Homo sapiens: one gene and its partner. The protein of the gene in region 2 purifies or fractionates together with the protein of the main gene of each other region. This does not show direct contact. Each region holds a gene or a part of one and is shown on either strand. Other genes may lie near its edges.

Region 1 (2,807 bases), on a different chromosome or scaffold from region 2:
TTAGTACTATTAATAATACCTTTTACACAAATATTTTTGACTTTAAAGCACTTTCATGTAAAAAGTAACTATGACTGTATAATTGCATAGAGCAGACTTAAGCTGTTTGACACCTATGTCTCTTTTGTGTCTTCTGTTTAAACTTGGGCCAATTCCTGGTGGATATTAGTTCATATTACAAAATTCTGATGTTCCAAAAAGTAGAATATATATAGAGATCAAACATTCAAAAGATACATTCTCTCCTAAGCTCAAAGGTTATATTTTTATTGGGTAGAACAGTATAGGTAAGTTGACATGAAATTGCATCCTGCACCATGACCACATTAGTAATATCAGAACTTTTGAGAAATACTGGATTTTGAATGGTTTGAGACTAATTCTTTAAAAATTAGGCTGAGCAACACTCACAATCCAAAAATATTCATATTAAGACTTACACATTTGAAGAATGGTACATTTTGTATAAAATCATATTTGATACCATTATTTCCACATACCTACTTTTCATCTGTTGCTTAATTTTTTCTTTTTAGAGTTCTTGCTCAACTTTATATGGAACAAGTCTTATTATTTTTGAAAGAGTGTTTAGTACCTTGTATTAAGAAACTTGGCCAAGCGTGGTGGTTCACTCCTGTAATCCCAGCACTTTGGGAGGTCGAGGCGGGCAGATTGCTTGAGGCCAGGAGATTGAGACCAGCCTGGGCAACATGGTGAAATCCTGTCTCTAAAATTTAAAAAAAAGAAGAAGAAGAAACTCGAGACTACATCTTCAAAAAACAACTTTGCAGTATTTGAATTTTACATTATACTGCCCTTCATTTCTGACAGCCAAATAACTTTATTGATATTTATTGCTTTTGTAGTTGTTATAACTAATAATTTCTTTGAAAATGTGTTGTAGTTTATGTTTTTCAAAGGGTTTTGGTAGTGTTTGTGATAGAATGGTTTTGCATATGATTATTATAGGGGATATATTTATAGAGCTCTACTTGTATACTTTGTGACTTACATTATGAAAACTTCAAAGTTCTCAATCCATACAGTTAGTATTTGTATCCAGAGTGTTTAAGAAAAAAATCTGTCTTATATTTTTAGTATATAGGAGCCAGTGTTGCTTCTATTTGTTTTGAATACAAATTCCAGTTTTCTTTGCATATTAGATCCCATATGTAAGAAACAACCTTAAACAATAATTTGTATGCTGGTAATATTTGGACAAGTGCCATAAATTAATGTATATTGTACTTTCTGAATAGATTTTCTCTAATCATAGCAAAATTTATTTCAAAACTACAACTCTTTGAATTATTCCGCTATAATAAAATTTAGTTATAAAATTATGTGGCACTACTGAAAATCTAAAGGATAATCTGAAGAATGAGTAAGACAGATATTGATAGAAATTTTTAGTATTTTCAGAATGTTTGGGTTCATACACATAAGTGAAATCATTTTAAAAACTAGGGGCTGGGCACAGTGGCTCACACCAGTAATCCTAGCACTTTGGGAGGCCAAGGCAGGAGGATTGCTTGAGCCCAGGAGTTTGAGACCAGCCTGGGCAACATAGCAAGACCCCTTTATCTATAAAAATAATAATAACTAGGTACCATTGTGAAAAATAATAACTAGGGATTGATTATAGTATCTTTACTCTGTATTCACAAATCTCTGTATTCCTGAACATATTTAATCCTTTGATTTACCTCTGACTAGGTTTGTCATTGTAATCCCTGGGCTGCTTAGGAGGATACCATTTGGTTTGATGAAAAAGCTGGAATGATAATAGCTCAAACTCTTTTGAGCATTTAGTACATGCTTGGCACTGTTCTATATGTCTTAAGTTATTCACTCTTGTATTTAACCATCAACACTCTTATGAGGTAAATATCCCGCAATTACTTTTGCGCCAACCTAGTACCACTACAGACAAGGAAACAGATGCAGAGAGGCTAAGTTACAAGGGCACACAGCCATAAACTTTGGATCTGTGGAGTGACTGGGCTTCAGAGTCCTCTTCCTGACTGCTGTTCCTATGTCTTTTGCAAAGAGAAGTCTTTGACAGGTATATGCTTTATTAAAATCATGTTTAGAAAGAAATGAGAGAATAGAATTAGAAAAAGGAATGACTGTAGGCTTCGATGAAAATGACTTTTGTGACTAGGTGAAAATTGTTTGGCTGGGTATCCTGGAAAATTGTCTTCTGGGAATATCTATATTCCAGGGTTCACTTTTGTCATAGAATTGTTTCTTGGCCCATTTAAGAGAGATACTTTGTTTATTAATAAATCAAACGTTTTAATTTTAGACATCTGTGATCAGTTCTTTTAAAGAGACTATATTTATTTAAGTACTTCCCAAGTTTAGTGCAGGGGTACTACCTACCATTTATTCAGGATCATAGAGGATAAGTTAGGGTCAAAGAAAATAGAGACTGCCATGACAGCGGCTTGCTTGCTTTCTCCCCAGGAATAATGCACAAATAATTTATAGCAGCTGATATTTTTCGGTGTTAACAGATAATAGGGGAATTTGCTGAAATTTTTATTTGGAGCCTCGGATTTAATTTTAGGCCACTGGGCTAATTTATTTTTAAATGTAAATTAATTCCAGTACTTTATTTGTAAAGTTTACTTGAGATCTAACTGTTCTAAGACATGCTGTTGCATTACAAATAAGAATTGCTGCATTTATTTTGATCCCATTGCCAGAGGCAAAATTAGTCAAAATTTAAAGGTATGTAGAAATACTTTTGTAATCCTTCTAAACTACATTAAATTTCTGGCTGACTGGTGGCTCACACCTGC
Region 2 (2,666 bases):
TCGCAGGCATAGGGACGCTCCCCAGAGTGCACACGCCGGTGACTGACCAGGCGAGAGGAGGAGGAGAAGCGCCGCTCGCAGTCCGGGCACGGGTAGGGCTTCTCGCCCGTGTGGATGCGCTGGTGGATGACGAGGGCCGTGCGCTGGCGGAAGCGGCGGTTGCACTCGAGGCAAGTGTAGGGCTTCTCTCCCGTGTGTGTACGCTGGTGGATGGCTAGCAGGGAGGGGTAGGCGAAGCGACGTCCACAGCTAGGGCACTGGTGGGGTTTTTCACCTGTGTGTGTGGTCCGGTGATTGGCCAAGGACCGGCTCCTCCGGAAGCAGCGACCACAGTCAGGGCAGTGATAGGGCTTCTCCCCTGTATGGATGACCTGGTGCTGGGAGAGGTTCTTGCGCTGGGAGAAACGTTTGCCACACTGGTCACAAACATAGGGGCACTCGCCGGAGTGTGCCCGCCGGTGACTGACCAGCAGGGATGGATAGGAAAAGCGGCGCCCACAGTCTGGGCAAGGGTAAGGCTTTTTTAGATTCTGGGCGCACTTGTGGCTCTCCAGGGCCTGATGATCAGGGAAGGTACAGCCGCAGTCAGGGCAGATGGGGCCCCCGGACGTCTGCCTAGGAATCAGTCGGGGTTTGCTGGGCCTCCGGCCTCGCTTCCCCTTTCGGGGTGCCTCCTTAGGCGGGAATACTTCCTTCTCCCCATTCTTCTTTCTGGTTCTGCTTTCTATAGAAATACAGAAGCATTAATTTAACAAATACTGGGCTCCTGCTCTTGTCAATTACATTATAGGTTACAAGACCAATAGACTCACCCCCTGGTCTCAATTCCTAGTGCCACAGACAGCTAAGTGTGACATACTGTCATGCAAATACGGTGTGCATTACAGGAGCTTCTAACCCAGCTTGGAGAAGTCTAGGAAGATTTCTCGGAGATTAAACTAACTTTAAAAATTGAGGCCGGGCACAGTGGATCACGCTTGTAATCGTAAGCACTGGGAGGCCGAGGCGGGCAGATCACAAGGTCAGGAGTTTGAGAGCAGCCTGACCAACATGGTGAAACCCTGTTTCTACTAAAAATACAAAAATTAGCCGGGCGTGGTGGCACGCACCTGTAATCCCAGCTACCCAGAAGGCTGAGGCAGGAGAATCGCCCGGGAGGCAGAGGTTGCAGTGAGCCGAGATTGTGCCACTGCACTCCAACCTGGGCGAGAGAGCGAGATTCCATCTCAAAAAAAAAAAAAAAAGGAATATTTTTGAAGAGGTAAGCTTACATCATTCAAAAGTCAAAATATCAGCCAGGCATGGTTGCTCATGCCTGTAATCCCAGCACTTTGGGAGCCCAAGGCAAGAGATCGCTTGAACCCAGGAGTTCAAGATCAGCCTGGGCAGCATAGTGAGACCCCATCTCTACAAAAAATACAAATATTAGCCTGGCCTGGTGGCACGCGTGCCTGCCTGTAGTCCTAGCTACTTGGAAGGCTGAGGTAGAGGATTACTTGAGCCCAGGAGTTCAAGGCTACTGTGAACCATGATGGCACCACTGTACTCCAGCCTGGGCAACACAGCAAGACCCTATCTCAAAAAACAAACAAGTCAAAATATTAATAAAGGAATACAGAGAAGTCTTGCTGCCACCTTTTTCCAATCTACCTTGTAGAAACCATATTAGTTTTTTCCCATTTTTTTGATGCAATACAAATGTCACCTTCCCTATCTTTCTTTCATAAGAGATTGCATACACATGCTTTACAGCGTATGTTCTCTTCCCCACCTTTCTTTTTTTTTTTCTTTTTTGAGACAGAGTCACGCTCTGTCACCCAGGCTGGAGTGCAATGGTGTGATCTCAGTTCACTGAAATCTCCGCCTCCCGGGTTCAAGTGATTCTCCCTGCCTCAGCCTCCTAAGTAGCTGGGATTACAGGCATGCACCACTATGCCCAGCTAATTTTTTGTATTTTTAGTAGAGTCAGGGTTTCACCATGTTGGCCAGGTTGGTCTCGAACTCCTGACCTCAGGTTATCTGCTCACCTCTATCTCCCAAAGTGACTACAGGCGTGAGCCACCATGCCCAGCTCACCTTTCTTATACAAAAGACAACATATACACACCTTATACACACTTTACATTTTTTCACTTAATATATTCTAAAGATCATTTTATGTCAGCAAATCTTTTTTCTATTTTACAGCTACACAGAATTCCATTGTGGATGGTTTATTTGACTTAGCTGATTCTTTAAAAAATGTGGCTGGGCGTGGTGGCTCATGTCTGTAATCCTAGCACTTTAGGAGGCTGAGGCAGGCGGATCACCTGAGGTCAGGAGTTCAAGACCAGCCTGGCCAACATGGTGAAACCCCGTCTCTACAAAAATATAAAAATTAGCTGGGCACAATAGCAGGTGCCTATAATCCCAGCTACCCAGAGGCTGAGGTGGGAGAATCACTTGATCCTGGGAGGCGGAGGTTGCAGTGAGCCAAGATCACGCCATTGCACTCCAGCCTGCATGACAGAGTGAGACTCCATCTCAAAAAAAAAAAAAAAAAAAAAAAAAAGAATTAAAATTATGCAGTGTTAGAAACGTAAGTCCCAGCCAAGCGCAGTGGCTCATTCCTATAATCCCAGCACTTTGGGAGGCCAAGGTGGGCGGACTGTGAGGTCAGGAGTTCG

Evidence for each region. The genes of interacting proteins can lie anywhere in the genome.
Region 1: the proteins of ZNF689 (region 2) and SRSF12 purify together in Homo sapiens (affinity purification with mass spectrometry; one large-scale study listed by BioGRID and IntAct). This does not show direct contact.

Annotation. Positions count from the first base shown.
Region 1 is NC_000006.12:89,095,459-89,098,265, reverse strand, and holds the end of SRSF12 (serine/arginine-rich splicing factor 12), read left to right. Parts: 3' UTR 1-2,307; downstream 2,308-2,807. UniProt on the Homo sapiens protein: Splicing factor that seems to antagonize SR proteins in pre-mRNA splicing regulation.
Region 2 is NC_000016.10:30,604,724-30,607,389, forward strand, and holds part of ZNF689 (zinc finger protein 689), read right to left. Parts: intron 725-2,666; coding exon 1-724. UniProt on the Homo sapiens protein: May be involved in transcriptional regulation.